4 linked regions of the Homo sapiens genome follow. The protein of the gene in region 3 binds, or shares a complex with, the protein of the main gene of each other region. Each region holds a gene or a part of one and is shown on either strand. Other genes may lie near its edges. A codon is read from its position in the direction of its gene.

Region 1 (7,078 bases), on a different chromosome or scaffold from region 3:
GGCAACTGTACCGTATTTTAATAAACACCATTCCCTAATTGATTTGCTTCTGAAATAGATTACTGAATACCTTTCAAACATTGAACATGAAGAGACAAAAAACTCTCTTAATGGCAGTGATTTTAGTAAAATCGATGGATGTTTTGGCTATCATCACCTAAGTGTCTACCATGACCAAACACTGATGTCACCATTTAAGTAACAAAACAAATCAGGAAGTTTTGCTAAATGAGAACTAAATTTGCCTAGCCCTCCTTCCTTATCTGGTTTGATGCAAACAATTTCCCTCTCAGCAATATATTTACTTTCTAGATGTAAGAGAAAAACTGAAAATTTACATCCTGACATCCACTGTGATGCAGAGGTGGACCTGACAATTTGGACAAGTCAGTCTCTTTCATCTTCCTATGTCAGTTCGAATGGGCTTTTAAGGTAAACTACTATCTAAACTTTTTTTTTTTCAATTACAAAGCTAAAAGATGACCCGTATTAATAGCTTAACAGGAAACAAAGTTTTGCTGAAAAACATTTTTGTGGATAAGCGGGGCTTCAAAAGTTGGTTAAATTACTTAGTATTAGACACCCACATATTGGGTGACAAATTGGTCTAAACTGACCTTAGAAAAGGCAGTTGTAGTGGCAGGTTTCTAGAACCTGACAGGTCGCCGATATTAGTATCTAATAGCAGTCCTCTGATCTAGGAGGAAAAATTAAACGTGTCTCTCTTGATACTTAGTGGAGTCAGTAAACAATGTCCTCAGTCTGCGAATGACTGATACTAAGAACCACACCTTCAATTTTCTAGCTCAGGCCCTGGTTTCCCTCCTCCCACTTCCCTCCCAACCCAGGCAGGTTATTACAGACAAGCAGGCAGTTACGTTGCTTCAAAATATTTAATACGTGTTAGACACGTAGAAGTTACATTTTTATACAAAAATCAATACAACGAAGGAGAAAATACTGTACAAAAACCTTATCAGCTCCCCCAACCTTTATACAACAAAGACTGGAGTCACCATATCTACAAAACCATAAGGTCTTTCCACTTCGGGCTTCTGTCTGTAAACTCTCATTAAACACTTTTTAAAAGCACTGTGTAGTACTTCTGACCTAGAGCTTTTAAAAATATATCTTTTCTCTATAAACTCCATTATTTCCAAGCTTGAACTCTTCTGTGAAGTTCGTCAAGCTTTTTCTCCCCTGCGGGGAAGCAAAGGACCGTTAATACGCCCCTTTCCTAGAGTAATCACAGGATATAAACGTTTCTTCATTGGGAGAGAAAGGTGGGGAGGGACAGAAGGAATCCAAGTCTGTGCTCTTGGCTAAATCCCTCTCGTCTTAGGAAATCCTGTGCGGAAACGCCACTCCTGGCCCTGAAGCGGGTCTAGCTTTCCGGTGAGGGGTAGGTGTAAAGTCCCTCCCTCCCCGGAGAACGAATGGGGAACTCCCCGGCCCAAACCTTTTAGCCGCTTCCTTCTCCACGCAGCCGGCAGAGGAAAGTCCCTGTCTGCCCCCAATCTCTTAAACCCTGGGGAAGGAGTGGTGCATTCCAGAAGAGCAAAATAGTCTTAATGCCACAAGACAAACTTACATACACAGACATACACAAACACAAAAGTTAACGATCGTCCTCTTCCAATGAGCCTCAAGCTCCCAGGTCTCCAGATAAGCCAGATGCGCCCGGGGGCAGTTTGCGATGCCCAGAGGCAACCAGTCTGCCCAACGCGCTCAGCGCCCGCGGTCTCTGGGCGTCCTCGCAGCCGGGAAGGGCCTGGCCCTCACTTCGGGGACGCCCGCTGCTCCACCTCCTCCCCGCAGGGGGGCCAAGGGCTCAGAAGGCCACGATGGCTGTGCTCCAGGGGTTCATGTCTCTCAGCACCGGCTTATCGCAGCAGATCTGCCCGGGCTCGGCGGCTTCCGGACCGCTCTCCTCTCCCTCCTCTTCCTCTCTGCCGCCCCCGGGGCTTTTCCGTAGGAGTCCCGAGAAACTGGAACCGAAGATGCTGATGAGGTTAGCCACGTTCCCGGTCTCCATCTCCTCCGCGTCGTCGTCCTCTCCTCCACTCGGCGGCTGCTCTAAGTTCCGGCGGGGCTTCTTGAGCGGGGTCGAGCCGGGCGCCGGGCAGCCCGCTGGGCCGCCGCCCACCCCCGCCGCGCAGCGCTTCCTGGGGCACACCGCGGGCGGCGCGGGGGGCTCGTCCTCCGCTGGTTGCGGCGCGCAGCAGCAGGCAGCGCGGGGGGTCGCGGCCGGTGTACCCGGCGGGTCCTCCCCGCCTAGGGGGCAGCCGCAGGGGCGGCGCGCGGCACGAGATACCTCGGGGAAGACGCCCCAGCCTCCGGCGGTACCCTCGGCTTCTCTGGCCGCCGCCTGGCGCGGCCCCTCCACGCGGCTCCAGGCAGCTTCCGTCGCGTCCGCCTCTCCGCCCTGAAAAACGTCCCCGACTCCAGTCACCGTGGCCACCGGCACCTCGTCCCCTACCCGCGGCGCGTCTGAGACGGAGGAGCGCTCCGGCTGCGGCTCGGTCTCCGGCCAAGAGGCACGAGCGGCGGGCGGGGGCGGCTCTCCCCAGCCGGCGGGTGGCCCGGCCGCCGGCTCCCCGGGCTGCTGCTGCGGTGGCGGCGCCGGGGTCCCAGCGGGACCGGCCAGGTAGAGGCCGGGGCACGGGTCGCTCAGGTAGACTTGGCGGGCGCTGCGCAGCACCAGCGAGACCAGGAGGTTCTTATGCAGCTTGATGCCGCCGCGCTGGACCCGCGAGTTGTAGATCTTGCCCAGAGAGATGCTGACGATGCGATGAGCCTCCAGCTTGAACTCCATCTGCTTCCCCTGCACAGGGCCGTCGGCGCCGGGGTGACACGTTTGGAAATTGGGAGGGAACGGGAGGCGCAAACAAGTCCGCCCCCTGGGCACACCCTCGATCACCTAAGACTCCGAAGAGAAACGACTCTGGTGACGCGCGCGCTGCTCTACTAACCTCTCCAAACAAGACAACTTCCCCGTTTCGGGTCCGGTCGCTAAACAGGGCAGCCTGGCTGCCCCGCGCCTTATATAGGCTTCTCGACCGCCAATCACGAAGGGCCGCCAACCGTTCCGGGGCTGGCCGGCGCGCCCTCGTGCGCCGCGCACGGCCAATCGGAGCCCGAGGAGGGGCGCCAGGGCCCGTTCGAACGTTAGTCCCGCGGAGCAGGCTCTTAAAGGGGGCGACGGCTTGCGGCCGCAGACCAGGCCCGTGGGGAGTGAATGTTCGGGACGGTGCTCGAGAGCGCTACTGTTTGGAGTTACAGATTCTGGCTTGTGCGATGGCTTGCCGGAACCAAAGCGAACAAAATATTCGAACTTTCTTCCGAACACGGTGGTGGACTCTGTTCTGCCATAAAGTCCTGATCCTTCCCTGATCGACTCCGCCCTCACCAGCCACACCACCGTTTCCAGGCCGGCCACACCTGTAAGCGACCCCCCTCAACCCTGGCAAAAATAGAGATGGTGGCCATACGCGGCGGAGGACACCCCTGGATAACAAATAGTATTACTGCAAAGTATTTGGCAATCATTATTTTTGGATGAGCCGCTTTCCCCGCTAGAGTCACATACACTCTTAGCAGCTGTCAGTTCTAACCCCAAAGAAAAGGGGGATTCTAAAAGTTTTTGCCTAGGTTTTTGGCTTCTTTTCAAGGAATCGTGTCTAGATACAAAGTTATTGGTTGTCCTCTAAAGCTGGCATCTTTCACTTTGTTCTCTAGATTCTAGAACAAACCCAGTTATCAAATAAGTTAAATGGAAGATGTTACAGGTTCTCCACAATGATTTTTTTTTCCTTTTTTTTTTCCATTTCCATTTTTCCATTACAAGGACTGACCAGTCCACCCTTGGAAAAATCGAGCAAGTTCTGAAAATAAAAAGAAAGAAGTCCTGTGTTCCCATGATGATGTCATAATTTCATTTCGTGTCAAGGTAAAAATATAGTGCTAGGGAGTTCCAGAATTTTCTGGTCAGTCAACAACTTAGTCCATCTACTGGTCCTTATAAGTATATCAGGACACAATTACCACGGGGTTGCCCAGGGTCCTGGACTGGAAACATGGAGTCACTTCCAGTTAGTTCCACCGAAGCTCCACCACAGACCTGCCTGAGGACTCTGGGTAAATAACCTCAGGCCGCTTCAGTGTCTCCACTGCTGAAAAGGGGGAAGTCACATACACATCTGCGTTATTGTACAGACGATAAATGACAACTTCTCAGCCACAATCTGAATGAGAAAACTAAGCACTGCTTTCTTGGAGTCCATGTGGAACCCTGGGCCTGATCCTGCCCCGGGGTTGGTCAAGCAATGAATTTATTTAGGAAAAATACCAGTGAAGAGTGGGCTTGATCATGACCAATTCACAATCTCCAGAGGATGTGATGGCTCAATAGCATTACCTGTGCCCACAACTGATGGTAACTGAGACAGCAGGCTCTGAGACCCAGAGTTCCTCCCCTCTAGGAATTTTCAGCCCACGTAGAGGAAGATATAAAATAATGACACGAATAATTACAAAACCAAATAGCATATATTGAGTAATGACACAAGAATTTTTCTCTTCTCTTTTTCTTTGCAAGTTATTAGTCACTATAAAGCAATGGCTAAGAGCACAGGCTGAGGAGGCTGGCTTCCTAGGTTGGAATCCCAGCTTCACCTTTCACTTGCTGCATGGCCTCTGGAAAATTACTTCACTTCTCTGTGCTGCCGTCTTTTTTATTACAAAATAATCAGCCGGGTGTGGTGGCTCACGCCTGTAATCCTATCACTTTGGAAGGACAAGGTGGGCGGATCACTTGAGATCAGGAGTTCAAGACCAGCCTGGCTAATATGGTGAAACCCTGTCTCTACTAAAAAAAAAAATACAGTAATTAGCCTGGCATGGCGGCAGGTGCCTGTAATCCCAGCTACTCGGAAGGCTGAGGCAGGAGAATTGCTTGAACACAGGAGGCAGAGGTTGCAGTGAGCCGAGATCACACCATTGTACTCCAGCCTGGGCAACAGAGTGAGACTCTGTCTCAAAAAATACAATAAAATAAATATAAATATAATAATAATAATGCCTACCTCTTAGAGTTTTTGTGAGGGTAGAACAAGGTAGCACATGCAAAGCTCATAGAACAGCACCTGGCATATAATAAGCTATCAATGTAGGCTAGTTCTCAGAACACACTACCCCACATACTACCCTGGGGTGGGAGAAGAGGCTGGGAGAAGAAAGGAACATAGATGGGAGAAAGTTTCACCAAAGAAGTTGTATCTGAAGAGGGTGCTGAAAACCTCTGAGGTAGGATCCACAAGTTCCAAGCAGCAGGAGCAACAGAGTCCAGTGTAGGGAACATCTTACTTTGCAGTTGTGCTGGGCACATGCCCAAAAGCAAGTGGGAAAGGCTAGAAACAGAGGCCGAGGCTGCATGATAGTGGGTTGTGGGTGCCTTGATGAGGAGATAGGACCACAGGGACCTTACTAAAGGTTGTTCAGTAAGGGAAGCACAGAATAGATTCTAGAACAGTTGGTGCATAGAAGAGCACACATAAAGCTCTTGTGGAAATTTAGGCAAAGGGTTGTGAAGACCTGAACTAGGTGGAGGCAACAAGAATGAAGAAACTGGCAGGGCATGGTGGCTCATGCCTGTAATCCCAGCACTTTGGGAGGCCGAGGTGGGCGGATCACGAGGTTAGGAGTTCAAGACCAGCCCGGCCAGCATGGTGAAACCCCGTCTTTACTAAAAATACAAAAAATTAGCCGGGCATGGTGGCACGTGCCTGTAATCCCAGCTACTTGGGAGGCTGAGGCAGGGGAATTGCTGAAACTCAGCAGGCAGAGGTTACAATGAGCGGAGGTCGCACCACTGCACTCCAGCCTGGGTGACAGAGCAAGACTCCATCTCAAAAAAAAAAAAAAAAAAAAAAAATGAGGAAACTGAGAGACAAAAGAACTTTAGTGATGATCTGGGATGCTCCCACTCACCCATCCAGGCAGGTTATTGCTAGTGTCAAGCCTCTTGCCTTCCATGAAGGCTTTCTGACCTGCCTGAGCTGAGCTTTTCCATCATCCACCACTGTACTCAGCACACTCCTTCATCATTGCCCTCATCACTTTCTCCTGTCATGCCCAGTGTCCCTCCCAGACTATGCCCTCATTGAAGGCAGGAGCCCAGCTCATATTTGTAGCCAGGATATGGTGAAAATACATAACAGCTGGTGCAGTACAGGCACTAACCATCAGAACAGGGTCCTGGAGGCCCTTACAATGCTAGGGGTTTGGAGGGCTCCTGCAAGAGGGGCTGCATGGCCAGTAAGGGGGCTACTCACGGGCTTAGGGCAGAGGTTCTATCAACTGACATGGAAACATTTCAATACTTTAACAACTGGGTTGGCTGTACCAGTGCATACTGAGTGATTATACACTTGGATTAATGAATTCCTAATAATAATAATGTTTACCAAGCACTGTGCTAGACATAGTACATGCATTATTTAGCACATTTATAAAGTTCTGAAAGTAGATATCATTATCTTCATTTACATTTAACCTACTTAAAGCTCCAATGTGGGGTCATGGGGCTAGATTGCCTGGCTCCTCTTCTCACTGCTGTGTGACCTTTGGAAAGTCATCTCACCTCTAGGTGAAATGGGAAATCCATATTTTAGTTTGCTTATATAGGCAAGTTATTTAACCTCTTTGTGCCTCAGTCTCCTGTGAAAAATGGGAATAATAAAAATAACTAAATTGCTTAGTACAGTTCCTAGCACCATATAAACACTTATAATTCTTAGTTATTGTTGTTATTATGGTTATTGTTATCACACCAGTGCCTAGCACAGTTCTGAACACATAGTAGGTACACTCTTAGTACTTGTTGAATTTTTAATGCTTTTTCTGCTGTACCACATAATAGGTGCTTAATAAATGTCTGATGACTTGCAAGTTGCACATTATCACTGTCATTATCAGGATTTTCTTTGATCCTGAGCCAACGAAATGGAACCTTTAGAACTCATGTCTGGAGGGCCCGAGTTCGTATGATCAGGAAACTTCACCTCCACCTACCAAAAAA
Region 2 (7,973 bases), on a different chromosome or scaffold from region 3:
GGTGTCACTCATTTCAGGGGATCCCTTGCTGAAATCTTCATATAGGCTTACTGCTTTCTGATGCAACACATTGCCATCAATTGGAATGCTTTCTGTTCATGTCTTCCACCCACAAATTTAATGCCCTTTCCATCTTCACTAAGCACTTATCACACACTGTCACCGTAACTTCTGCAATTTGAGGTGCAACAGCAAAACTAGCACATATTTCTTTTTCCTTCTTCACAACTTCATGGATAGAGGATTTGTTCTTACCACAGATCTTAGCAATCTCAGCATATTTTTTTTCACCTTTTCACTTAGAGGAAGCACTTTACAGCTTCTATTTGGCATATTACAATTGTCAGCATCACTACTGTTGTGTTTGGGGCCATTATTAAGTAAAATAAGAGTTACTCAAACATAAGCACTGCTACAGCAGTCAATCTGGTAACTGAGATGGCTACTAAGTGACTAATGGGCAGGGAGCATAGACAGCATGGATGCACTGGTTGTAGGGATGATTCATGTCCCAGGTCAGATGGAGTGCGACGGCACCAGATTTCATCATGGCACTCACTCACAGCAGCATGTAATTTAAAACTCATGAATTGTTTATTTCTGGAATTTTCCATTTAATATTTTTGGACCAACGTTGGCCACAGGTTAACCAAAACTGTGGGTAGGAGGGGACTACTTATTTTGACTTCTAAGTTGGTTTTGGCTGTTTGGGGACTTCATAACACTGAAGTCATAGTGTATGTATTCTTTTGTACTTAATTTCTTTCATTCAACATTATATTGTAACTCATCCATGTTGTTGGGTAAAGAGTTCCATTGTATAATTAAACTGTTTATGGTTGTTTGAGTCTGGAGCTATTACACATAATAATAATAATGCAAGAAACATTCTTGTGCATGTCTTTTAGTAGACAGATGCCCTCATTTCTCTTGGTTATATTGTCAGGAGCAGGATTCCTTAGTCGTGGGCTATAAATATATTTTCTTTTAATAGGTACAGCAAAATATTTTTCCTAAGTGGTTGTAACAGTTAACCCTAAGTTCCTATGGTTTTAAAGCACAGTTTTTTCTGCAGTATTTTTACTGTAGGTTGTTGATGCTAATTAACGTGGAACATTGAGGTATTTGCCAGCCCATCTTAGATTATATACATACACACATTTTTGTATTTTACATTCATTCAATTTGGATTCAGAGGTAGAAATTTGCCTTGTCATATATTTGGAAATTTAATAGTGAAAAATTGCCCTCAGAAATTAAAAGAAAACTATCTAATAATAATATTGTTCTAAGTGCCTACTCCCTGCTAGTCACTTTAAACATTCTAGTTCCACTTATTCCTCATTGAGATCTTATAAATTAGATATCAGATTGGGACTCTGTCCCAATTCTAGATATTGTTATGGTCATTTTTAAGCTATTTATTTATTTTAATTTTATAAGATGAGGTCTCTCTCTTGCCCAGGCTGGTCATGAACTCCTGGACTCAACAATGCTTCCACCTCAGCCTCCCAAAGTGCTGGGATTACAGGCGTGAGCCACCACGCCTGGCCCTAAACTATTTATTTTTAACCTAAAAATAAGTAATATTTTTTAAAATATAAGTAATATTTTAAAAATCTAATATTAATCACAATAAAGTTTAACTGTGGAATAGATGTCTGGTTTTGTGGCTTCACAGTGAGAATGAATCTTGACTAAGTGTGGTATTTAATTCATGGGAGTGAAACCGGAAGGGGGAAATGAGCCAGGGAGGTTCCTTGGATCCTGCCTCTGGCATTATTCATTTGCAGCTGGCTACATTGCATTTTATGGCTGCTATTTTCTCTCATTTGTCCTTGATTCCTTCGAAAGGAAGTAGTAACTCAATATATTAAACACTGCCTAGAATCCTCAGTGCTGAACATTTTAATTCTATCAAATTTTTATTAGCATATCGTTGAAAAAGAAAGAAAACCTAGGGCTTCAGTTTCTTAGGTCACATAATGGGTAGTTCCAGTAACACACCTGCATGGGCTGGAGGGCACTCTAAATAATAATAATATTCCTGATCTTTAAAAAATATATCAAGGTATAGAGCTCTTAGAATCAGTGTAGAAAAGCCTGTTAGACTGGATTTTCAAATAATAGAGTTCTCTTCCCTTTTAGACAAAGCTATATTAATCCATCCTTTCATTCATTATCATGCATTCACACAATGATTCAACAAGTACTTACTCAGTACAATGTGCCAGGCCCTGTTCTAGATATTAAGCATATAACAGAGAACAAAACAAAGGTCTTTCCCTTGTAGAGCTTACTTTCTCAGCAAAGAAACAGGCAAGAAAATGTATACATATATGTCATGTGGTACTCCGGAGGACAATAAAAACAGAGTAAGGGGCATGCAAATGTAGACTTGGTGTTGAGAACTGCAATTGCTTTTTATAAGGAACAGTTATGAAAGCCTCTCCATCAGTATTAATATTTGTGCCAGGACCTGAAAGCACTGAATCATACATGACTCAGTCAATTCTCTGTCCCCAGCTCTACAAGGACAAGGGTAGAAACTGGGAAACCAGCTAAGATCTCTAATAGGTGTGTTCAGGCAAGAACCAAATAGCATATATGTTTTATTTTGTGGGCTCATCACCATCCTTGTGTTTTATTAGTAAAGGTAATTATTATGTTTATCCAGACATGGACGAACAATATCTGGTACATTTGAGCCACATTGATAATAATGTAGTAATATGAAGTTAACAGTAATATGCTGTGGGTATTATAAATTGAGTTCTATATTTAATGTTCTTTTCTACTTACCTAATATTAATTTTTTTGTAGACATTTCCTCCTCTCTCCTGTTTTTATTGAATAATTTGTAGCATTCTTTCAGCCACTTACAGTTGAACTTCAGTCATTTGTGTCTCCTGTTCATCCTCTGCACAGCATGCTATTAGGTTCTGTTGTTGCCTTGTCTCCCAAATCCATCTCCTTCTGCCTTTCCCAACTTTGGTTTTAGACCTTTGTTTCGTCTCAGAATTAGCCATCCTTCTCTAATTCATGCGAAATTCTCTCTTTAATCCATGTGAAATTCAGAAAAAACAATACAGGTTTTTGAAATGAGTCCTTGATTCAAATTGGTTCAGATCTTTGTTCTTCCGTGTACTGGCTGTAGTGCCTTTTGCAATTTTTGAACCTCAATCGTTCCTTCGTAAAATGAGTATAACAATATCTATGCAGTGAGGATTAAGTGGGATTATGGAGTGTTTAAAGTGCCTAGCAGGGAGTAGGCACTTAGAAAATGTTGGTTCTTTCCACCTTGTGTTCTTCTGCTTCAGATCTCTTAATTTCTACAACTCTAAATGTGCTATTTTCCTCTCTCAGTAAATAATACTACCATCTCACCAGTTTAAATAAAAAAAGCTATGAGTCCCCTTCGAATAATCTATTTCTTTCACAATCTAAATTTAATCCATCTGCAAATCCTATTTGTTCTAACTCAACACATATCCTCAGTCTCTCTGCTTCTCCCCATTGACACTGCTACAACCCTAGTCCAAGAATCTTATCTGTACTGTTGCCATAGGTCCTGAATTCATCCTTCTGCCTCCACTCTGGTCTTCTTTCAGCCTGTTTTCCACAGAGCCTAAGTGATATTTAAAACATAAACCAGATAATATCAGTCCCCTGCTTAAAACCCTCCAGTGGCGTTTCATCATATTCAGAATGAGATCCAACTCTTACCCTCTCCTAACACTCCCGCTCTTATGCTTCAGCGGCACTGCCCTTTTTTCTTTTTCTGCTAACTCATCAAACTCATGGCTGCCTCCGGCCTTAGCACTTGCTATTCTCTCTGCTTGGAATACTCATTCCCCAGATGTCCACGTGACTTACTGCTTCTTGTCATTTAGATCTCAACTCTAATTGTCCCCTGACTTCTATCAGTAGTGCTCCATCACACCATCTTACTTTTCCTAAGGCTTACCACTATCTGAAAATAGCCTGCGTTTCTCTATTTTCCCCTCAGTAAGAATTAAAAGTTCATACTAGGGCCCATTTCCTAGCAGTGTTTGGCACATAGTAAGTATGCTGAAAAAAAAAAACCTTGACTGACTGAATAAATGAACAAATAAACTCACTTTTAATGAGATATCAAGGTTTTATATTAATTACATGAGCCAAGAATTGTGGTTTCATTTTTAAAATGTGAGGACCTACTGGTTTAATCCTTCATACTTCACACATATGCTTGTGCTGGAACTATGACTGTAAATCAATAGCAATACCATCCTCTGTTTTGGCTTCTTCCCCTAACCTAAATAGTTCTCAGATTTACTTTTCTCTCCATCTCCACTGCCACACTGTCACCTTAGTGCAAATGACCATCCTCTCTGGCCTTTTTTCTGTAAGGTTTTAATCTCCCAATATGTATTCTCCAGACTGCAGGCCAGTGAGCTTTTCAGTTGCTGTTACACCCATGCTTGAAAACCCTTTAAGTTTTCATTGTTCTCAAGATAAAGACCAGAATGTGGTCTGGTCCACCACCTCACGTCAGGCCAGCCCTCACTCTCCACTCCAGGCCACACTTTCTCCTCCCCTCCTGGTTCCCGCCTGCCAACTGGCTGGGTAGCCGTTGCTTCCCGCTTCCTGCAAAGTTCTACATCGCACCCATTTCGCCCACTTCTTCAGATTTCAGGAGATTGTTCCTTCCTCGAGGAAGCCCTCCCTGATTAGGCCAAGCGCCACTCCACGTCATACAGCCCCACATCACCATGGGCCTCTCTTTCAGGGCTTTGTTTTATGAGTATGCAATCCAGAATATGACAATCTTATTGACATGCGTCAACGCGAGCTTGCGCTCAATAGCTATTTGCCGAAGGAATATACGGACTAGCGGCCCGACCACTCCTCGCCCCTCCCCTACCACTGCCGCGCACATATTACGCATTAAGCAGGCGCCGCGAGTACGGACATCGCGAGCGCCTGCGCGAAGGGCTACGCATGCGCAGAGGGGCCAGCCCGCTGACAGATTCTCGGTGGCGGCGGCAGCGGCGGCGGCCCTGGACTGCGGGGAATGGGAATCCTAGGTCCCTGACTGAGCACCTCCCCCGCCTCCCTGCCCCCGACATGGCTCAGGAGAAGATGGAGCTAGACCTGGAGCTGCCTCCGGGTACGGGCGGGAGCCCGGCGGAGGGCGGTGGCAGCGGCGGCGGCGGGGGCCTCAGGAGGTCTAACAGCGCCCCCCTGATCCACGGCCTCAGTGACACTTCGCCGGTGTTCCAGGCCGAGGCGCCGAGCGCCAGGCGGAACAGCACAACGTTCCCGAGCCGCCACGGCCTGCTGCTGCCGGCCTCCCCTGTCCGCATGCACAGCAGCCGCTTGCACCAGATCAAACAAGAAGAGGGCATGGACTTGATCAACCGAGAGACGGTCCACGAACGGGAGGTGCAGACCGCAATGCAGATAAGCCACTCCTGGGAGGAAAGTTTCAGCCTGAGTGACAACGACGTGGAGAAATCCGCCTCCCCCAAGCGCATCGATTTCATTCCTGTGTCACCAGCACCGTCACCCACTCGGGGAATTGGGAAGCAGTGTTTTTCGCCATCCTTGCAAAGTTTTGTAAGTAGCAACGGATTGCCTCCAAGCCCTATTCCCAGCCCAACGACCCGATTTACCACCCGGAGAAGCCAGAGCCCCATCAATTGCATTAGACCAAGTGTTCTTGGACCATTGAAAAGAAAATGTGAAATGGAAACTGAATATCAGCCAAAGAGATTTTTCCAGGGCATCACCAACATGCTTTCTTCTGACGTTGCACAGCTGTCAGATCCTGGTGTGTGTGTATCTTCGGATACCCTTGATGGAAACAGCAGCAGTGCCGGATCTTCTTGTAACTCACCAGCGAAAGTCAGCACTACCACCGACTCTCCTGTGTCACCTGCCCAAGCGGCTTCTCCATTTATTCCACTAGATGAACTTTCGTCTAAGTGATTCACTCATCCTGAGACTTTCTTTTTGCAGTGGAGAGAGAGAATAATCTAGTTGGGGCAAACACTGAACTTTGTCAATTAATTTGAGGCTATTTCCTATTTGACCCCTTTTCTTTTTTGAAATTCCCTGAAATGATGTTATTCTAGAGAACTTCTATGTCAGGTTCCTTTGGATACCCTTGAATTCAGTGTAGTAATATTTTCAGACGTTTCCCCAATAAGTGTGTTGAAGCATACATCTTTACGCTGCTAATATGTCTAAATACATATGTTATCCCTTGATTTTTTTAAATAACTGAGAGCTCTATTTATTTATGGGATTATTAAGTTCTGATGAAAATATAAATGTTGACTTAATCAGCATAGTAAACTGATGTTTAAAATTCCATACTTCATGCCCACACTAATTTTTAATGTTATTTTCAGTGGTTGCCGATTTCCATTTGATGAAGAACTATACAGCTTAAAAAAATACGTTAGTTATATCTATCTAGTGGTTGTCTGTTTTACCCAGGAATTCTTGGATATTTAGTTTTCTGGGTACTGAAGTGGATGGGAGGGGGAATGATTAAAGAACAAATTATAAAAGTTTGAACAAATCTTTTCAAATTAAGTATATAAAAGTAAACTTTTAAGAAAAACATTTTTAATGAGATTTTAATAGTAATTCTAGTCAGTCATACAACTATAACTACTATAGAGAAAATAAAATTTTTTCCTTTTTTTTTTTAACCGGAAAGTGCATTTGCTTGGGTGTAATCCTAAAGTGAAATGGGACAGTGCCTTGCAGTCTTTGCCCACTATACATAGGCTAAGGCTAAGCTCTTTGTACTACTGCAAACTTAAAAGTTTTTCAAATGTGGGAAACGTGTGGGAAGGCTTGTTGAACTTTGGCGCACTCAGGTAAACAATACTCTCTCAATTGTTGATATACTTTAAAATATTCAGTTGTGCCTCAGTTCCAGAAATTATTGCCAAACAGGAGCCACAGCAATTTTTGGCTACTTTTCTGCTCTGCCCATCTGTCACCTTACTGGTTTTCCCTTGTTCAGGAAGGAAGCAGCTGTTTCCTTGCCAACAGGTCCCTTCCTCTCCATCTCCCACCAAACTAGGGCACCATTGATTAGACAAAGGTACAGTGTAACTTGGGTTTCTGACAGCAACAACAGGACTGTGAATTGTTTAACCTCTGTGGTTAAAGCTACAGCTTGAGTTGACTGCCTTGGGGATGTCAGTTAATTAAGGGGTGATGATTTGCAAGAGAAAATTAGTGGAGAGTCACATAGGTAAATCATTATTTAACTTAGGTTTTCCTAAAGTTAGAATAGTCGAATGTTCTTTTCTTTACCTTTACAATTAAGACAAAATGTTTAATAAGAATAGCAAAAATTTTTTTATATTATGCATCCTTATACCTCACATATCTTCCTTAACTAGATAGTTTGACAGAAAGAATGGCATACAAAGAGGAAAGGGGAAAAATGACTCAGAACAAGACAAAAGCTCTGACTGTTTAAAGTTATCGCTTACAGAGACTTTAACAATTTTGTGGAATTTTTACAACTATGAGAGTAAATGGAACTGGTCAACTCTTGACAGTTGCCTCAAGATGGAGTGAAATTGCATCGAGGGTAAGACTGTGTCCACAGGTTTAAAATTCTCTCTTCTGAGTAATAGTGTTCATGTGCTCCCATTCTCGACCCTGTTGTTGAAATTCAAACTTAAATAGCCTGACTTCTTGTTGGGTAACTTGCCCTGCCTCCAGAGGTATTTGAACTTCATTATCTTCAACACAGGAATTGTTAATCTTCTCACTTCACCTGTTCTTGCATTAGCTCAATTGATGTCATCACTGATTTCCTAAACTAGAAACTATGGAAGCATCTTTGACTTTTCCTTTTCTCTGTTGGATTAGCTTAATCACCAAGTCCTGTCAACTTCTGAAATGAATCTCAAATTTCTTCCCTTCTCTATCTGTTGCCCCTGATTTTGCCTTAAGTT
Region 3 (7,021 bases):
TATAAGTCTTTGACTATTTAGTAAGGCAAAAATGAAATTAAGCACTCTAAAAAGTAGAAATTAAGTTCTACAAATTTGGTTCCCATTTACAACAATTTCATTAACACATAATGAGTTAAATAGAGACACAATGTATCCAATACCCTCATGATGGTAAAAAAAAAAAAAAAAACTAGTAGCATTTATAGATTGTGAAATCCTTAATAAAACCTATATTCAAAATATGTTCATAGAGAACCAATACCTCTCCTCCTGCATGTAAAAGAACACTTGTTAAAAATAATTAACAAAAATACCAATAAACAATGAAAACCCATTTTGTTTCACTGTGCCCAAAGGTATGACACAAAATATTGGCTACAAGAGGTAGGTTAAAAAGAAAAAGAAAACCAGATTCTCCATTCTTTGTCACTTTTATTCAGTAGTAGGTTTTTTTTCCTTATTTTCAGTGCCAGACACGGCGAGGAGTGATTACAGCCAACTGTTACTAAAACATTTGTTTGCAACATATACCCCCTTTATACCACTGACCCCAAACTGACTCATTTTGTGTGCTTTCATTCTTTCTTTTTTTAATATACCACCACCAAGACCGGGTGGAGGGGGCAAGGGTAAGAGATGAAGGGGAGCAGTCCAGGAGGCCAGAAGAGGAGGAATGCTACAAGCCACAGTAAGAATGAGCTGTATTTAATTTAAAAAAAGGGGGAAGGGGTGTACCCCACAAATGATACAGTAATGAGGATACACAATTAAATCCCATAGCATGACTGAAGGCTTTCACTGTGTTTGACGTCATCACAATGGAAGGCATAAAAAGTGGAGTAAATCAATGTTGATACAGTCCAATCTAGTCCATTAGGCAAGATGGTGCAAGAAGTCATTTAAATTAAAAGTGCCCTACCCTTACCTAAATGGCTAGCAGACATGGAGAACACCACAGTGATGAATCCACAGAGCTTTCTCCATGTAGCTATAACAATGTGTTGTCGAATGGCACACTGTCAAACACTGGAAAGGGGCGCCACAATGGACCTCTCTCTTTTATAGGAACGAATGCTAGATTCAACTATCTCAACTAAGCAGGAAGTGGGTTCTTCTGCTAGGAATGCCAACCCTAATTCACTTTGTCTTGAAATATATACAGATTGTTTGTAGTAGCTACGGCAATGATATTTTCCTTGGGGTGCCAGGCTGTGTGAAGGATTTTCTTATTGAAGTCTAGGCTGTCAACACTTATTTCATCTTTCTTTCGCTTGCCACTTGCACAGACTTTGCGAGGCTTCAGAACTGTGCGAGGCTTATTGTTTTCCCGCGATGCTTCTAGGGTTATGTCTCGCTTTGTGTTTCTGTCAAACATTCTGAAGAAATTATTGTAAGATCCAGTCATGACAACACTGTGAAAATAGACAGTACACTCAGTCAAACAAGCAGAACAAGAAATTGTTTTCAAGTAAAATGATTCGGCAATTAAACCATAGGAAGCTACTTCAAAAGCAGATTTAAACTAAGGGACAGGGGCTGTTGACATCAACTCAATCACTAGAATAAACCAGAAATACGGTACTAATTAACTGGGTTTTCTGCTTATTCTTTTTATGGCTACCAAAACTATCAGCAAAGTTGACAGCATCCTCAAGTAAAACTTCTTAGGAGTGCAGAATTATCGTTGTTAAGTATTTTTGCAACTACAGGCTATGTGATCAACCAGGCCAGCCAGCTTCTCAAAGGAGCAACTATCTGTGGAACTCACAGGTTCTAAAACAAAAGAACCCCGCATGAAGTAGCTGTAGCTGTTCACAAGAAACCAATGCTTTATCTTATGATTTACATTTTTTGGGCCGGGCGCAGTGGCTCACGCCTGTAATCCCAGCACTTTGGGAGGCCAAGGTGGGCAGATCACGACGTCAGGAGATCGAGACCATTCTGGCTAACATGGTGAAACCCGGTCTCTACTAAAAATACAAAAAAAATTAGCCTGGCGTGGTGGCAGGCACCCGTAGTCCCAACTACTCGGGAGGCTGAGGCAGGAGAATGGTGTGAACCCGGGAGGTGGAGCTTGCAGTGAGCCAAGGTCGTGCCACTGCACTCCAGCCTGGGCAACTGAGCAAGACTCCGTCTCGGAAAAAAAAAAAAATTAGCTGGGTGTAGTGGCACGTGCCTGTAGTCCCAGCTACTCAGGAGGCTGAGGCAGGAGAATCCCTTGAACCCGGGAGGCGGAGGTTGCACTGAGCCAAGATTGTGCCACTGCACTCCAGCCTGGGTGACAGAGTGAGACTCTGTCTCATAAATAAATAATCTTCTCAGGGTATTGTCTGGTTCAGATAATCACATTTAATAAATGCTTATGTTATAATCTGCTCCTGAGAATATTAAGTGGTACATAATGTGTGTGTGTGTGTGTGTATAATTTTTTTTTTTTTGAGACGGAGTCTCGCTCTGTTGCCCAGGCTGGAGTGCAGTGGTGCGATCTCGGCTCACTGCAAGCTCTGCCTCCTGGGTTCATGCCATTCTTCTGCCTCAGCCTCCTGAGTAGCTGGGACTACAGGCGTCCGCCACCACGCCCGGCTAGTTTTTTTTGTATTTTCAGTAGAGACAGGGTTTCACCACGTTAGCCAGGATGGTCTCAATCTCCTGACCTCATGATCCGCCGGCCTTGGCCTCCCAAAGTGCTGGGATTACAGGCGTGAGCCACCGTGCCCGGCCTATATATATGTATTTTTCAAGACAGGGTTTCACTCTGTCACCCGGGTTGAAATGTGGTGGCACAATCACAGCTCACTGCAACCACAACCTCAACCTCCTGGGTTCAAGCAGTCCTTGCACTTCAGTCTCCTGAGTAGCTGTGACTACAGGCATATGCTGCCATGTCCAGATAATTTTTAAATATTTTGTAGAGACAGGGTCTTGCTATGTTGCCCAGGCTGTAATATTTTCTTAACAGAACATCATTTTACTTTTACCACTTAGAACATTTTAAGCAAATATTTATAAAAGTATCAGTTTAAAGGGGTGGCAAAATTTTTAAACTGCCCAAGACACTTCCTTGTCAGTTCTATTTGCCACCCATTACTGCTCGACATTTATTAAGTATCCTCACAAACAAAACTTCGTAAGTTTGAAGCTCTTAATTTGGAAAGGGTCTGCTACCGCTGCTTACCAATGGTTCAAATTATTATTGTAAATAAGGATTACAGGATACTGGGGAATTGTTCAAAGTAATACTTACATACAAAGGTCACCTACTGAGTACAAATTATTATCTATTTAGTAATGTCAATTCCCAAAGGACACTTGGCAACAACTTTAATCAAACTCAAGGTAATGCGTGCCCCTGAAGATGACAAAACTGTATTTCTTTAAAAATGGCTTGTGTAATTTAGATTGACATCCCCATATCATCTGAGTTTGCGTGGTTTTAATGTATTAGGACACCTAGGCTGTGGCTACTTGAAACTTTAAAAAGGTATCATTAGGCCAGCATTTCTGTGGTATTCCTGCCAAAAATGTATAGCCTGAATCTAATCATGAGGAAACATTCTATAAAATAACTGGCCTGTGTTCTTCAAAATGCCAAGGTCATGAAAGACAAGGAGAGACTGAGGAACTGTTTCAGAATAAAGGAGACTAACAAGAGATGACAACTAAATGCTGGATACTGAACCAGACTGACTTTGTTCTGTGCCATAAAGGACATAGTTACAGTAACTGGTCAGTTTCAGTGGGTCTCCGGATTAGATGGCAGTACTGCATCGCTGTGAATGTTGCTTTGGATGCTGCACTGTCACTATGTTGGAAAGTGTTTTTGTCAGGAAATACTCATTCAAGAATTTAGGGTTATGGGCATCACATCTGGCGTAAATGGAATAAATTCCCATGTGGCACACAAGTTGCATGTGAGCACATGCGCACGTACCTATGTGGACAAATATAGCTATAAATAAACAGAGAATAGAACACGTGATACAGCAAACAGCGACAGGGGAACCTGGGTCAAGGCCAGCCAAGAGTTCTTTGTGTTATTCTAACAAATTTTCTCTAAGTTTGAAATAGTTAAAAAAAAATTTTTAATATTAAGGAAAACAAATCGTTTTTTTCTGATAATAGAACATAAAACTGCTAATTATCTGCTTAAATACAATGAAAAACTGGTTGTAGCTGTGCGCCACACCTTATTTCAGTATCTCTTTACTCTTCAAATTTGTTAATCTTTTTTTTCTTCTTCCCTTTCCTTCTTTCTTCTTGATGCCTCAGGTTTAGTAGTAGCACTCAAAGGCAATGTTTGCTATTAACAGAACTCTAGGTTTACTAGTCCTTATGTCAAAAATCAGATAATTTTAAAAGCCAGATGAAAGAAAACATTCTATAAGTTCTATTATCCTCTGTAACACACAACACCATGAAATCGGAATCATATTAAGCTCTGTGATAAAACTGTTGTTGAAGTATCTCTGATTACTTTAAATGTCAGTTTAATTCCAAAATTATGTTTTACTACTTTCTGTTCTACTGGAACATAGTGGCAAATAGACAACTAAAAGACTCAAAGTAAGACTTATTTTATCTTTAAATAATGGGTAACATTTTACTAAAAATGAATACGAAAAAGGAATTACACTACGGCAAAACTGGAAATTATAAAAAGCAAAGGATAACTACTACTAAAATTTTAACCATATATATTATGGTTAACATCATACATAACATACATATGAAAGACCACTTCTATGAGGTGTTAATGTAGCATCTGGAAAACCTGGTGTTTCTAACAATCCAAATGAGTTATCTGCCGCCTGAATGTTTCTGCAACAGTTTAATGGAAGAATAACAACCAAGCTGAAGCTTCACCGTTTTAATGGTTAGCATGTCAGAAATGTGATCTGGTTCATAAAAGAAAAAAAATTCTAGACATTTAAATAATTTAGATTACCTAGAATTTGTGTACTTTTATATTTACTAGTGAAATACAATGCTTTAATTTTTTATCTACCAGTACTGCTGTGCTATATCTAAAATTACTAAATTTATTTCAAGGAATCCCTAGAGACGAAGTTAGGACCTGGAATGAAATAGTTGTTTCTTTTCTTTAATAAAATTCATATTTGAGAGGTTTGACTTAATTACCTGTCAGATCCATTCCAACAACATTCAAATTTGTCAAATATGCAGTCATTTTCATACAGTGAACAGAGTTTACTTCTGAGGTATTCATGCACCTGGGGGAAAAATACAAATATACTGCACTGAAATTAGGAAAATGATTTAACAAGTCCATATCTTTAAAAAGAAAAAAAGGGCATATACAGACACATACACACACCTTTTAAACCTATTAATCTCAATCTTCTCAGTAACAATAAAGGCATTTTGTCCTTTTACAAAACACACAAGCCCTTCAGGGAGGTACATTTTCCTACTGGTATGACAAAGGAAAACTCCATTCTGGGCATGGCACACATAGCCTTTATAAGCCTGAATAAAACATTCAGGCCAAAAACACTTGAAAATGGCACAGTTAAGAGACTAATAAAAGAACATTATAGCAATATCTGAATATCACTATTCTTGGCTTTCAGTCCATTAACTACTGATAACAACACTGAAACTGTGCCTATTTCTTTCTTAAATACCATTTTCTGGGCATAAATTTAACTGAAGCCTATATTTTCCATTATAAATGCACATGTATGCATAGCGTAACCATGCCTTGGTTTGGTGATAAATTATATGGTTATTCTGGGCATATATTATTAAAAATTTGATAGTATCATATTATACAATGTCAAAAGCTAACAAAGCTGTGCCTGTTTTTTGAATTATATAATTCTGTATTTACTAATATGTCAAAAAAGGATAAACTAGAAATCTCATATTTAAAAAGTCTGAGAAATATGACATATTTCAACATTAATATTAATTACAAACAAAAGTTCCAAAGTATTTGTTGTAACTCAAAGGAAAAAAGGAAGTGTCTATATTTCACCATCTCTTTTTAAGGAGCTACTTAAGGAGAAATGACAGAAATGAGAAGGTACCTTCTAAATGCTTAGAATTCTCTATTCTATATGAAACAATCTAAACTTATTTTCAGTGTCTATTTTAACTTTAAATATAGTGGAATGATTCAGGCCATGTCTCTGTGACATTAAGTGAAAATCTGTAATACAGAGGAATAGCAACTCATGTGGGGTTAGGATCAAAAGTGAGCATGTAACACAAAAAAATCAGTAAGAAAAAAATACCCTTCAATCACACAAAACTTGGCAAGATGCTGGTACAAATTCAATAAAAATAGTTTTATCTATATATGATACATTTGCCTATAATGTGACTACTTTTAATCACTACTCCAACTGTTTATAAGTAGAAAAGTAGCAAATCAGGTAAAATTAGGTAGATTATCATAATTTAGCAACATTTTAGAATGCACATTATAGAGTTTCTCACTATACATCAGTATGAAGCTAAGCTTCAAATCAATTCTTCTCAATGGGAATGAAATGATGGTGAGGGTAACTAGGAGATATATCAATCTTGGCAGTTACACAAATAGAAGTCTTTTTTCAGTATACACGAGGGATGGGTTCCAAGAACCCCAGGTATACCCAAATCTGCAGTTAGCCCTGCGGAACCCACACGTGAAGTTTTGGCCCTCCATATATTTGAGGGGTTTGCATCCCTCAAATATTGTATTTTCAAATGTGCATTGGTTGAACAAAACAAAACAAAAAATCTGTGTATGAGTGAACCCATGCAGTTCAAATCCATGTTGCTCAATAGTGAACTATACTTTGAAAAGCAAAGCAGTATTTTGTCTTTTGTTTCAGTGCAGTATTTATTTTGAAATTTCACGTATCAAAAACAATCTTCGTTTATGTTTGTCAGAGGATTTAAAGTTTGAGAAACATACTTCCCAGTCTATTGAGAATATATAACATAAAGAAAGTATATGTATAAATTAGAGTTAAGTGATTTCAACACTGCAGTCTAGGGCCTAGCACAGGTTTGTGCTGTCCCTCACCCT
Region 4 (7,021 bases), on a different chromosome or scaffold from region 3:
TGCAGTGGCGCTATCTCAGCTCACTGCAACCTCCACCTCCAAGGTTCAAGTGATTCTCCTGCCATGTACTGCTCTACATTTGTTTTGTTATAATTCTTTTTTGTTTAGTTCCCCCAGAATCTGTCATTACAAAGATTTTTGAAATTATATGAACAATGACAAACATTGACAGAAAAAGATCAGATTGTTTTATACTAACAATGATAATGTCTTGCTCAATTAAAAAATTAACCCCATTGATCTTCATTTAATTTTTATCATCTTATTTTATTTTTAGAACCAAAGTTGTTTAAAAACATTTTTTTTAGGCTGGACACGGTGGCTTACGTCTATAGTCCCAGCACTTAGGGAGGCCGAGGCGGGTGGATCACCTGAGGTCAGGAGTTTGAAACCATCCTGGCCAACATGGTGAAACCCTCTCCCTATTAAAAATATAAAAAATTAGCCAGGCGTGGTGGCGGGCGCCTGTAATCCCAGCTACTGGGGAGGCTGAGATCAGGCCATTGCACTCCAGCCGGGGCAACAAGAGCAAAACTCCGTCTCAAAAAATAAAAATAAAAAAAAATTTAAATTTAGCATCAACTAAAACCTATTTGCCATTTCTGAATAGGGCTTTAAACTTTGCTCCTCTTCTATTCTGGAAACACAGGAATAGCAAATAGACAATGACCACAAATAGTTTTGTCCCAGAAACAAAGAATATTAGCATGAATCCAAACTGGATAGCTAAATTTGTTTTGTTTCCTATCCAGCCAAATAATTCTATATGCTTGATACTAGAGTAAGTAAAAGATGTATCTGAGACCCATAGAGTAGCTGCAAGGTGAAAAAAATTAATATACAGTAGAGAAATAGGACAACATCTTGACCAGATGACAAAAATTAACATCACCAATGAGATGCAGATGGATAACACATGCCATCATCAGATGTGATATCCTCAGGAGACAAAATCACTTATACAGTTTTCCATCAGGGAATGACTAACCTGCATCTAATCAAAAGTTAATAGGAGACAAATCCAAAATTGGGAACCATCTATTAAAAGAGGGGATGAGGGTGGGCACAGTGGCTCACGCCTGTAATCCCAGCACTTTGGGAGGCTGAGGCAGGCGGATCACAAGGTCAGGAGTTTGAGACCAGCCTGGCTAATATGGTGAATCCACATCTCTACGAAAAATACAAAAATTAGCTGGGCGTGGTGGCACATGCCTGTAGTCCCAGCTACTCAGGAGGCTGAGGCAGGAGAATCGCTTGAACCCGGGAGGCGGAGGTTGCAACGAGTCCAGATTGCACCACTGCACTCCACCTGGGCAACAGAGTGAGACTCTGTCCCAAAAAAAAAAAAGGCTGAGGCAAGAGGACCACTTAAGGTCAGGACTTTGAGACAAGCTTGAGCAACATAGTAAGACCCTGTCTCTATAAAAAGATTTAAAAATATCAGTCAGGCATGGTGGCACATGATTGTAGTCTCAGCTACTTGGGAGGCTGAAGCAGGAGGATCATTTGAGCTGAGGAGTTTGAGGCTGCAGTGAGCTAAAAAGGTGCCACTGCACTCGAGGCCTGGGCAATACAGCAAGACTCGGCCTCTAAAAAAATTTTTTTTAATTAAAGAAAGGGACAAAGTGATTGTGGATTATATTCTTCAAAAATGGTAATGTCATAAAAGAAAAAGAAAGGCTGTGGAAATGTTCCTAATTACAGAAGAATAAATAGACATGATAAGCAAATGCAATACCTGATCCTTAATTAGAAATTGTACTTCCAGGAAAAAAAATGCCATAAAGAACATTATTGAATCAACTAACAAAACTAGAACAGAGTTAGCAGGTTAAATAAAATTATTTTATCAGTGTTAATTTTGCTGAAGTTGGTAGCTGTACTGTAGTTATTTAAAGAAATACACAGTGAAGTATTTTGGGGTAAAAGGCTACAAATGTATGCTACTTAGACTGAAATGGTTGAGGATAAAAAGAGAAAGATCTGGCTGGGAGTGCTGGCTCACGCCTGTAATCCCAGCATTTAGGGAGGCTGAGGCGGGTGGATCACCTGAGGTCGGGAGTTCGAGACCAGCCTGACCAAACATGGAGTAACTCCGTCTCTACTAAAAATACAAAATTAGCCAGGCGTGGTGGCACATGCCTGTAATCCCAGCTACTCGGGAGGCTGAGGCAGGAGAATCGCTTGAACCCAGGAGGCAGAGGTTGTGGTGAGCTGAGATTGCACCACTGCACTCTAGCCTGGGCAACAAGAGCAAAACTCCATCTCAAAAAAAAAAAAAAAAGAGAGAGAGAGAAAGATCTATATATTGAAGAAAGAAAAATCAAATGAGAAAGCAAATGGGATAAAATGTCAATAACAGGTGACTCTGAGTCAAGGGTATATGGGTATTGTCCTTTTCTTATTTTTGTAACTTCTCTGTAAGCCTAAAATTATTTCCAAATTTTAAAAAATTAATTTTAAAAAGTATAGCTAAAGATTCAACACAGAGGTTTCTAGCAGAATTTGAGAAAGGCAGAGAAAGAATATGAAAATTGGGAAAGGATTATCTATGTTATAACTTAGAATTAAATGAAGTCACACAGTGGCTCACGTCTATAATCCCATAGCACTTTGGGAGGTTGAGGTGGGTAGATCATTTGAGGTCAGGAGTTCGAGAACAGCCTGACCAACATGATGAAACCCCATCTCTACTAAAAAAAAAAAATACAAAAAATTAGCCGGGCTTGGTGGTGTGTGTCTGTAATCCCAGATACTCAGGAGGCTGAGGCATGAGAATCACTTGAACCCAGGAGGCAGAGATTGCAGTAAGCCAAGACTGTGCCACTGCACTCCAGCCTGGCTGGCACAGTGAGACTGCGTCTCAAAAATAAATAAATAAATAAATAAATAAAATAAAAATTAAATGAAGTCAAATGATCTCAAAACAAGAGAAAACTGATTCCAAAATTTAGAGCTTATATAACATTTAAAAACATCAAAGAGGTTTACCTTAATTTAGCTGAACGTAGTATTCTGGTAAGTGAAACACAGTTGCCTTCCATGATACCCTTTCCAACCGTGGGAATAATGCTTTTGCGGCATGCAACATATAATGAACATGCCAACCAGTGTGTAACTTCTCCCTGGCAAGCAAAAGACAAACAGCAAAACAGGTATAATATTATGTTAAAATGCTTTAATTCTAGAAACAAGAGATGTAGAATTATCTGGTCTCAATTTTCCTTATGTAGATAAAGGGCCAGAGAAGTGAAGATATTTGCCCAAGGTCACAAAGCTGTTAGTTGCAGTAATGGGTATAAAACTCCTTACTCTTAGTTCTGTGTTTTTACAACTATAACATGCTAAATTAATATTAATCTAAAGATAAAAGCCTGGCTTGGTGGCTCATGTTTGTAATCCCAGTAACTCGGGAGGCTGAGGTGCGAGTATCACTTGATGCCAGGAGTTTAAGACTAGCCAGGGCAACGTAGACTCTAAAAATGAAAATAAAAAAATTAGCCAGGCATGGTGGTGCTTGCCTGCAGTCCCAGCTACTTGGGTGGCTGAGGCAAGAGTATCGCTTAAGCTCAGGAGTTCAAGACTGCAGTGAGCTATGTTTGTGCCACTACATTCCAACATAGGCAGCTGAGCGAGATCCTGTCTCTTAAATCCTGTCTCTTAAAAAAAAAAAAAAGAAAAAAACTCTTTCACCTACACTCCAAATCTAATACAGGCATATGCCACATAACATCTTGGTCAACACTGGACCACATATACAATGGTGGTCACTTAAGATTATAATACTTGCCAGGCGCGGTGGCTCATGCCTGGGAGGCTGGAGCGGGTGAATCACTTGAGGCCAGGGGTTCAAGACCAGCCTGGCCAACATGGCAAAACTCCGTCTCTACTAAAAATGCAAAAAATTAGCTGGGTGTGGTGGCATGCACCTGTAGTCCCACCTACTTGGGAGGCTGAGGCAGGAGAATAGCTTAAACTCGGGAGGCAGAGGTTGCAGTGAGTAGAGATCGTGCCACTACAGTCTAGCCTGGGCAACACAGGGACACTCTGTCACACACACAAAAAAGATTGTAATACTGTATGTTCTAACTGTTCTATATATTTAAAAAATTATAATTTACTGTACCCCTTTTATGTTTAGATACACACATACTCACCATTATAGTTGCCTATAGTGTTCAGTACAGAAACATGCTGAACAAGTTTGCAGCCCAGGAGCAACAGGCTATATTAAACAGCCTAGGTGTATAGTAGACTACACTATCTAGGTTTGCATAAGTATACTCTGTGAAGTTCACACAACAAAATCACCTAATGTTGCATTTCTTAGACCATGTCCCTGTCATTAAGTGAAGCATGTCTGAATTACCAGAAGAGTTTTATTAAAATTTGTCAGCATGACTTTCTTGATTTTAAGAAATGGCCTTGATGATCCTGAAGTTTCTATCGTTTTTGCTTTATGTTTCTCTTTAGTGTGGCAGGGAAAGGCAAGAACAGAGTAAAAAGTTGGCAAGGGAGTCACACATAAAAAATTAATATTAATCTTACGCAACATGAAGGAGACTGTCATTTTTGTAAGGTAAACATTTGGGGATTTACCCCAAAACATGTCATCTTTAAAATACAGTCATATGCATTGCTTAATGACAGGGATATATTCTGAGAAATGCAACATTAGGCAATTTTGTTGTGCAAACATAGCATAGCCTACTAAACCTAGGCTATATGGTATGCTTATTGTTTCTAGGCTACAAACCTGTGGAGCATGTTACTATACTAAATACTGTTGGTAAATGTAACACAATAGTAATTATTTGTGTATCTAAACACAGAAAACATATAGTAAAAATAAAGTATGTGTGGTCCATCACTGACTGAAACATTCTGCAGCACACGACTGTAGTAAGCACGGCTCTTTATATTAGTAGATATCTCAATTTACAATGCCACAAAAAGGTGACATTTGGGAATTCAACAATTTTCTGCATTAGACTTCAGACATCTCCAAGCTAGAATCACTTCATGACTTCACTGCTGAAATACAATAGCTGAAGTTTAAGGATTAAGAATTACGGATAGGCCGGTGCGGTGGCTCACGTCTGTAATCCTAGCACTTTGGGAGGCCGAGATGGGTGGATCACCTGAGGTCAGGAGTTTGAGAGCAGCCTGGCCAATGTGGCGAAACCCCGTCTCTACTAAAAAATACAAAAATTAGCCAGGTGTGGTGGCGCACGCCTGTAATCCCAGCTACTTGGGAGGCTGAGGAAGGAGAATCACTTGAACCTAGGAGGTGGGGGTTGCAGTGAGCCGAGATCACGCCACTGCACTCCAGCCTGCGCAACGGGAGTGAGACTCCATCTCAAAAAAAAAAACAAGAATTACAGATAAAGGCCAGGCACAGTGGCTCATGCTCGTAACCCCAGCACTTTGGGAGGCTGAGGCAGAGGATTGCTTGAGCTCAGGAGTTCAAGATCAGCCTAGGAAACATAGTGAGACCCCCGTCTGTACAAAAAAGGAAAAAATTAGCCGGGTATGTGGCACGTCTGTAGTTAGAGCTACCTGGGGAACTGAGATGGGAGGATCATTTGAGTCCAGAAGGTTAAGGCTGCAGTGAGCTGTGACTGACCCACTGGACTCCAGCAAGGGTGAAAGAACGAGACTCTATCTCAAAAAAAAAAAAAAAAAGAATTACAGATGTAAATCTGATAGCACAACACAATAGTGTTCTTATACACTGTTCCACAGACTGTCTTTAAGACCAAACCCTAGAAGGATAAAAAGATTGATAAAAAGATTTCTTGCAATAATCTAAAAGGGGTGGGTAGAAATGGGTGGCCATCAATAAACCCAATGTTCCTACCCTGAAGGAATGAGAAGTCTTTTCTCAAAGCACTAAATGAGGCAGGTAAGCTTAAAGATGAATATTTTTACAAGCTTTGATTAATGAATTGCTTGGGAATAGGGTCTGGTCATGGTGGCTTACGCATGTAATTCCAGCACTTTGGGAAGCTGATGTGGGTGGACTGCTTGAGTTCAGGGGTTCGAGACTAGCTTGGGTAACACAGCAAAACCCTATCTCTACAAAATACAAAAAAATTAGCAGGACGTGGTGGTATGCGCCTGTAGTCCCAGCTACTCTGGAGGCTGAGATGGGAGAAGTGCCTGAGGCCCTTTTTTTGTCTCAAAAAAGAAAAAGAGAAAGAGTTGTTTGGGATTAGCATCCAAGTATTATAGAGCCTTTGGATACAGGCTACTAAATGAAAATTCTAGCAAGATGGTGAAAATATAAGTCCTAAAATTATTGTTTCGATTTTTTTAAAGACATTAAAGAATACACTGATTTTTATTTTACTTTTTAAAACAGGGTCTCACTCTGTTGCCCCAGGCTGGAGTGCAGTGGTACAATCAGGGCCACTGCAGTCTTGACTTCCCAGGAATGAGGGCCACTGCAGCCTCGACCTCCCAGGCTCAAGCAATCCCCCCACCTTAGCCTCTGGAGTAGCTGGGACTAAAGGCACATGCCACCACACCCAGCTAATTTTTGTAGAGATGGGGTTTCACCATATTGCCCAAGCTGGTCTCAAACTCCTGGGCTCAAGTGATCCACCTGCCTCAGCCTCCCAAAATGTCGGGATAACAGGTGTGAGCCACCATGCCCAGCCTATTTTATTTTGTGTAGAGATAGGGTCTCACTATGTTGCCCAGGCTGGTCTTGAACTTCTGGGCTCAAGTGATCCTCCTGCCTCAGCCTCCCAAAGTGCTGGGATTATAGGTGTGAGCCACTGTGCCTGGCCTGACTTTCTTTCCTTAAAAAAGTCAACTATTTTATTCCATGAGAATAAAATAGAATACAATTCTATTTGATAAAATCCTATTTCATAAAAATTCTATGAATTCTATGATATCAGAAACCATTTTTTGCATTTCTAAGGCCTACTTGCCAGGCCTTAGAAATACAAAAAATGTTTTCTGATCTCACAGAACTTCACATCTGGAGCTAAGAAGAGGAACAGATACTATC

Evidence for each region.
Region 1: the proteins of PPP2R2A (region 3) and IER5 are in contact, whole or in part, in a cryo-EM structure (PDB 8UO5), measured with the Homo sapiens proteins. Residues at the interface, in NP_002708.1 of Homo sapiens: Glu91, Ile92, Glu93, Glu94, Asp116, Tyr178, His179, Asp197, Leu198, Met222, Leu225, Thr226, Glu227, Val228, Thr230, Ser247, Phe280, Phe281, Glu283, Ile284, Ser287, Cys334 (codon at 5,186), Tyr337 (codon at 5,177), Glu338 (codon at 5,174), Asn339 (codon at 5,171), Asp340 (codon at 5,168), Phe343 (codon at 5,159), Lys345 (codon at 5,153); in NP_057629.2 of Homo sapiens: Ala7 (codon at 2,797), Arg9 (codon at 2,791), Ile10 (codon at 2,788), Ile13 (codon at 2,779), Ser14 (codon at 2,776), Lys17 (codon at 2,767), Arg25 (codon at 2,743), Gly26 (codon at 2,740), Lys29 (codon at 2,731), Leu30 (codon at 2,728), His31 (codon at 2,725), Lys32 (codon at 2,722), Leu34 (codon at 2,716), Leu35 (codon at 2,713), Val36 (codon at 2,710), Leu38 (codon at 2,704), Val39 (codon at 2,701), Leu40 (codon at 2,698), Arg41 (codon at 2,695).
Region 2: the proteins of PPP2R2A (region 3) and PABIR1 are in contact, whole or in part, in a cryo-EM structure (PDB 8SO0), measured with the Homo sapiens proteins. Residues at the interface, in NP_002708.1 of Homo sapiens: Phe84, Leu87, Lys88, Ser89, Leu90, Tyr178, His179, Asp197, Met222, Glu223, Leu225, Thr226, Glu227, Val228, Tyr337 (codon at 5,177), Asp340 (codon at 5,168), Phe343 (codon at 5,159); in NP_612206.5 of Homo sapiens: His81 (codon at 5,350), Ser82 (codon at 5,353), Ser83 (codon at 5,356), Arg84 (codon at 5,359), Leu85 (codon at 5,362), Ile88 (codon at 5,371), Lys89 (codon at 5,374), Glu92 (codon at 5,383), Arg99 (codon at 5,404), Glu100 (codon at 5,407), His103 (codon at 5,416).
Region 4: the proteins of PPP2R2A (region 3) and RBL1 are in contact, whole or in part, in a cryo-EM structure (PDB 9C6B), measured with the Homo sapiens proteins. Residues at the interface, in NP_002708.1 of Homo sapiens: Lys88, Tyr178, His179, Asp197, Leu198, Met222, Glu223, Glu224, Leu225, Thr226, Glu227, Val228, Ser247, Arg278, Ser279, Phe280, Phe281, Ser282, Glu283, Ile284, Ser287, Tyr337 (codon at 5,177), Phe343 (codon at 5,159); in NP_002886.2 of Homo sapiens: Ser615, Pro616, Leu617, Met618, His619, Pro620, Arg621, Val622, Val625, Arg626, Ser629, Leu632.

What each region holds. Positions count from the first base shown.
Region 1 is NC_000001.11:181,084,640-181,091,717, reverse strand, and holds the start of IER5 (immediate early response gene 5 protein), read right to left. Parts: upstream 3,019-7,078; 5' UTR 2,816-3,018; coding exon 1,832-2,815; 3' UTR 1-1,831. UniProt on the Homo sapiens protein: Plays a role as a transcription factor. Mediates positive transcriptional regulation of several chaperone genes during the heat shock response in a HSF1-dependent manner. Mediates negative transcriptional regulation of CDC25B expression.
Region 2 is NC_000009.12:68,775,056-68,783,028, forward strand, and holds the start of PABIR1 (PPP2R1A-PPP2R2A-interacting phosphatase regulator 1), read left to right. Parts: upstream 1-5,009; 5' UTR 5,010-5,109; coding exon 5,110-5,973; 3' UTR 5,974-7,973. UniProt on the Homo sapiens protein: Acts as an inhibitor of serine/threonine-protein phosphatase 2A (PP2A) activity. Inhibits PP2A activity by blocking the substrate binding site on PPP2R2A and the active site of PPP2CA.
Region 3 is NC_000008.11:26,364,507-26,371,527, reverse strand, and holds part of PPP2R2A (serine/threonine-protein phosphatase 2A 55 kDa regulatory subunit B alpha isoform), read right to left. Parts: intron 5,214-7,021; coding exon 5,122-5,213; intron 1,395-5,121; coding exon 1,115-1,394; 3' UTR 1-1,114. UniProt on the Homo sapiens protein: Substrate-recognition subunit of protein phosphatase 2A (PP2A) that plays a key role in cell cycle by controlling mitosis entry and exit. Involved in chromosome clustering during late mitosis by mediating dephosphorylation of MKI67.
Region 4 is NC_000020.11:37,085,998-37,093,018, forward strand, and holds part of RBL1 (retinoblastoma-like protein 1), read right to left. Parts: intron 3,126-7,021; coding exon 2,992-3,125; intron 1-2,991. UniProt on the Homo sapiens protein: Key regulator of entry into cell division. Directly involved in heterochromatin formation by maintaining overall chromatin structure and, in particular, that of constitutive heterochromatin by stabilizing histone methylation.